Regions from separate parts of the Homo sapiens genome. Here region 1 is linked to region 2. The links come from fine-mapping of genetic effects on gene expression. Tissue or cell type: whole blood. Region 2 holds a variant in brackets; the other region holds the start of a gene. All regions are shown on one strand. Distances are from middle to middle. Region 1 holds the start of MFSD1 (major facilitator superfamily domain containing 1). Region 2 overlaps MFSD1 (major facilitator superfamily domain containing 1).

Region 1 (2,500 bases), 26 kb before region 2:
TCAATTGATAGAAGTTGAGTAAGATGACAGAGAAGTGACTAATGTATTTGGAAAGATGGAGTTATTACTCCTCTCGGCAAGACAGTTTTATTAGATCGGGAGCTCCTCCACTGGAGCTGAAGAGAGAATGGACTGTGAAAGTGGAGATATGTATAGACATCTCAAAGGCAGCACCTGATCCTTGACACTCTCTCCTACCTCCTTCTCTCTCTAAATTTTGATCTCTATTGGCGGCCCAAGCTAGAAATCTGGGAGACACTCTCAAGTCTTTCCTCTCTTTCAGATCGCATAGGCTATTATTTACAGTTATTCCCATTTTACCTCCTAAATAATTACTGATTTTCTTCTGTGCCATTCCTGCTTTTTATTGCTAACAGGCCCTCGTCATCTCTAATCGTTACGACTGCAGCATCTTCCTAATAATCCTCACAGTTTTCAGCCTCTAGCTTTGACGCCCTCAAAATTCTGTTAGTAAAGCCTGAGGGCTCCCAGAAAGCGACGATGGTGCTGTGCTGGCAGACCGAATGTTTTTTAAAACACAAAGCTTGCAGTCCTGCTGCTGTGCTCAAAATCCTTGCATGGCTCTTCTTGAAACAGGTTTAGTGTTTCTACTCGAGTTCCTTCTCTGTCGTTCAACACAAACACATACACACCCAGTTCTGTTTCACGCTTTTGTCTTTATTATCCCTCGTAACTGCCCGCCCTGCAACCAACCCGCTCAAACAAGCACCCTGACTGGCGCATTCTTACTCATTCTAGCCTGGGTTTCAACTTCAAGGAGCTTCAGCGCCCCTCACTCCCTTGCCCTGAAAGCTGGCTAAACTACGCACCTTTTCTCCCCTTTTGAAATGACCTTTCCAGATATTTCTATGGAATTCAGTGCCATTTTCTGCCGCTGTTCTCACCACATTCATTCATCATGTTTAGTTTTAAAAGTACCAGATTCTGTCGATTTCTCCAACTGAACTCTGAAATCTTTGAGGTCAGGGAGCTTGCCTCATTCTATTTTGTATTCCCAGTACGTGACACATGGCTGGACACACCAGAAATTGTCCGATCAAGTTTGTGGGTATTAAGAGTGGTCAAAGACGCTGGGGAGGGCAGTGCTGGGAGAAGGGCAGCGCGCGTCTTGGCGACCCCAGCGCAGTTCGAACTACTCCGGAGTCTGGTGTGGAGCCGAGAGGGAGCCCCGCACTTTTCTCCCCGCGGAGCTGCGCTGAGTCTGAAATAGGTGTACGCGTCAGCGGGGCAGGAAACGGAAAGACAGTGCAGTAATTGGTGGAAAGCTGGAAGTGGGCACCTCGAGGGCCTCAGCCCCACGAACACAGTCACCCAGGAAAAGCGAACCGCGCCAGGCCCTGTCATCGACCGCTGGGTCCGTCCTCCCAGCGCTCGCGGCCGCTCACATGGGCGTGGCCCTGCGTGACCTGCCGGGGCGTCACGTGAGCTCCCGGAGTCATGTGACCGCCGTCTTGACAGTGTTCCACGGGCGCTGCTTCCTGCCTGGGTTTGGAGTTGTCACCACTTTCCCCTCTCCGTCTCCTGCGGGCGCAATGGAGGAGGAGGATGAGGAAGCGCGGGCGCTCCTGGCAGGCGGCCCTGACGAGGCCGACAGAGGTGCCCCGGCCGCCCCTGGAGCCCTGCCGGCCCTCTGCGACCCCAGTCGCCTGGCGCACCGGCTTTTGGTGCTGTTACTGATGTGCTTCCTTGGCTTTGGTGAGCCGGCCGGGTGGGTTGGGGCTGATCTTTAAGGAATTCCCGACTTTCTCTTCGAGGTAGATCGTCATCGTGGTCACTGGTGCCACGGGGCCTCAGCGCAGCTTCTGTCTTAAGCTCCTGGGCCTCCTTATTTTCCCCTTTGCGATCGATTCCAGCCACACCTGTGGATGTTGCTAGTTACTCCGCGTCCGGAACGTGGAGGTCGAGGGACTGAGCTGGGCGAGTTTTGTGGCACTCCTTTGCTCTTCAGTAAGTCCCAGGGGCTAGCGACTCGCCCTAGAGGCGATAGATATGAAGGTAACTCCAGATTTTCAAGGTTCCTCTTTTGGCACACGTGGTCGGAGGAAATTCAGAAAGCTTTAACTGTTCCTAAACAACTTTTGTTTGTTTGGTTTTAGGTGAGACAGGGGCTTGCTCTGTCACCCAGCCCGGAGTGCAGTGTTGTGAAAGTGGCTTACTGCAGCCTCCACCTCCTGGGTTCAAGCAATCCTCCCGCCTCAGCCTCCCGAGTAGCTGGGACCACAGATGGGGCGCCACCACACCCGGCTTTATTATTATTATTATTTTTAGACACAGGGTCTTACAATGTTGTCCAGCTTTTAAAAAACGTGAATGATTTCGTCGGCAGTCTTCTATATATTTTTCACCCTCTTTGAGAAAATGTATGAGTGTGTCTTGCTGATAGCTTCAGTGAATAGATATTGTTCTCTTAATCTTCCACTCTGCCACTGTGAAGCAATCATATTGGACGGGACTTGTGGTAGTCTTGACAGTGGTTGGT
Region 2 (3,033 bases):
TCTAACTGCTTGCTCCTAAAGAGTTTTATATATTTAGTAGAATATAATATATATGCTGTGTAAATAATTTCAGGTCATTTCCTTTTTTTTTTATTTTAATAGTTTTTTTTTTCTTTTCTTTTTTTCTTTGACAGAGTCTCACTCTGTCACCCAGGCTGGAGTGCAGTGGTGCGATCCCAGCTCACTGCAGCCTCAACCTCCCAGGATCAAGTGATCCTCCCACTTTAGCCTCCCAAACAGCTGGGACTATAGGTGTATGCCACCACAGCCAGCTAATTTTAAAATTTTTTCTAGATATGGGGTCCCCCTATGTTGCCCAGGCTGGTTTCAAACTCCTGAGCTCAAGCAATCCTCCCGCCTTAGCCTGGGATTTACAGGCGTGAGCTACCACACCTGTTCATTTCCTTTAATTTCTCTTAATTTTCACTATTATTGAATATTAATACAGTGTCCTAAGTAACAACACTTGAAGCAATACATAAGTCCAAACTTAAAAAAATGCTTAAATTAAGGGGTGATTATTTATATCACACAAGAATTTCATTTTTTCCCTTTGGGAAGGTTCCAGTAGATAAACCATTACTTTTTCATCGTCGATAGCTTTTTCTATTACTTAAAATACAGTGTATCTATGCAAATGGTTGCATGTATGTATGTATGGTTGAAATTTACTTACTGATAATACTTATATGGAAAAGATCTATGTTTATTTGTGTTTTAGGTGGGAACCTAAATTATTCTGCAAGACAAAGGGAAGAAATAAAATTTTCCCATACTGAGTAAGTATTAAAAGGGTAAAAAGTTGTCTTTATTTTTGAAATCTTAAATATGAGCATTTCGTTTCAAGGTTTGGGCTTTGAAGTTTTTTTTTTTTTTTTTGATTCCCATGCTTGTCGTCCAGGCTGGAGTGTAGTGGCATGGTCACAGCTCACTGAAGCCTCAACTTCCTCAGCTCAGGCAATCCTCCCATCTCAGCCTCCCAAGTAGCTGGGACTACAGTTGTGTGTCAACATGTCTGGCTAATTTTTTGTATTTTTAGTAGAGATGGGGTTTTGCCATGTTGCCCAGGCTGGTCTAGAACTCCTGGGCTCAAGTGATCTGCCTGCATCGGCCTCCCAAAGTGCTGGGATTACAGATGTGAGCCACTGCGCCTGGCCTGGGCTTTGAACTTCTAAGAGATTAGTTTTCCTTGAGTTTTGAGAGCTAGCTATTATGTGTGTGGAACTATTATAACAACATTCTTGTTTGCTTCAGAAAATTTAAAAATGGATATTAAGGCTTGAAACGAAGAAAAAAAATAATTCAATTTAAGTTGTTCTCTGTGAGACAGAGAGAGACACAGAGAGAGAGAGAGGGGGAGAGAGAGAGAGAGAGAGAGAGAGAGGGGGAGAGAGAGAGAGAGAGAGAGAGAGAGAGAGAGACAGAGATCGATCTATATTACTTGTAATTTATTGGAGGAAAGGCCTT[C/T]GTCCTGAGGTCCTGGACTGGGCTTACCCTTCCATTCTCTCAGATATTTTCTTTTTCTTAAGTAGTTGATAATTTTTCATCTTCTTCTGGTACCAATATGTGGTTCTGTGTTCTCTGATTCATTTGGAAGAGATTTAAGTATATAGCATGGTGATTAAGTTAACATTTCTTTTTCTAAAAGTATGTACTGAAACATAATAGTGATTCTGTTTCCTGTTATTTCTAATATTTTTAGACATTGAAGTTTTTATGATTTTAAACATTTATTTGTAAATATATATACCATGTGATTGTAATTGTTGTGACTTTTGACTAGGTTAAAATCTGGTAGAACAGTCTGTTTTTTTGAGATGGGGGTGGTTTTGGTCATATTAAATTCACTTTTAACAAATACATCTTAAAATAATCAGAAGTATGAGTTTTGAATATCTTTATGATAGTCATATTATGTTAAAAGTTTGGAAACAACATAAATGTCTTAGAGTAGGGAAAATGGTTAAATATATCATGACACATCCATGTGATATGTTGTTAAAACCATGTTTTAGAAGGATTTTTAATGTCATAGATGCTTAACATGCCGTATGCTAAGTAAACAAAAGATAAAAATGCAAATATAATATCCTAATTTTATTCAAGAAAAAGTATGCTGTCACATGCTTGTTTTAAACCCAATTACTTATGTATAATAGAAAATATACTACTAGAAATAACCTCATATTAATTGAAACCTCAGAATATTAATTAAAAACTCAGAATATTTTTCAAATTTTCTACATTGATCTTTTGTGACTTTTAGGATCAAGAAGAGTTAAAAAATTGCTCAGAAAAAAAATGTGTAGCTTAGTATTTGCTATTACATGTCTTGTAATGCTTGGTTTTCATTTTATAAGGCAGGTGAGCTTCATGTTTTTTTCTTCCTCTTTGGTAATTTATTGCGTTATGTTTTGCAGATGAGAAGTTAAAATGAATGTGTCATGAGAATGGGCTTAACACATCGTTGGTTTGAAAACTTCCATTTTTAAAAATTTAGAGTTTAGTCATTAGAAAAAATAATGGACTGGAAAGTTATATTTATATCCAAATATACCTATTTCAAAGTGTATTTGTGAGGCCTGTTTTAGCCTGTGTCTTTTGTATTGTGTGTTGCTAAAGAATTCTACTTTTAGTAGGCTAATCAACAATGAAAGGGTTAGAAAATTGCTGTGGAACATCCAGGTGAACTTCAGGAAAGACAGTGAAAAATGGAAAACGTTGGAGCTTCTGTTGAGATAATCTTCATTAGGTATATATCTTAGGGATACAGCCTTTTCTTTATCTTATAGCAGGAAAAAAAAACTTTTGAGGGAAATAGAAGGGCTGCGTTACACAAAATAAACAATGGCATTGTCATAGGCCTTCCTTTTACTAGTAGGGCATAATGCTAGGGAATATGTGAAGATGTTTTTATGAAGTCTCTTTCTGATCACGAACAATAGCTTGCGCTCTACTCTGTAGTTATGTGGATTGCCGAGCAATGACCCTTTTCAATTTCTTATTTCTGTGTTACTGAGGACCCTAATCACT

Evidence for each region. PIP is the estimated chance that this variant, and not a neighbour inherited with it, causes the effect.
Region 1: MFSD1 starts here. The variant in region 2 is fine-mapped to the expression of MFSD1 in whole blood (TOPMed, PIP above 0.99).

The regions. Positions count from the first base shown.
Region 1 is chr3:158,800,600-158,803,099 of GRCh38, forward strand. It overlaps MFSD1 (major facilitator superfamily domain containing 1), which reads left to right and starts at 1,455. Exons shown (of 16, transcript NM_022736.4): 1 at 1,455-1,716. The coding sequence starts at 1,554.
Region 2 is chr3:158,826,559-158,829,591 of GRCh38, forward strand. MFSD1 (major facilitator superfamily domain containing 1) reads left to right here. Exons shown (of 16, transcript NM_022736.4): 15 at 722-779; 16 at 2,421-3,033. The coding sequence ends at 2,424. Among named protein-coding and RNA genes, the nearest start is that of MFSD1, 26 kb to the left of the region's middle. The variant C/T (reference allele first, on the strand shown) is at 1,468.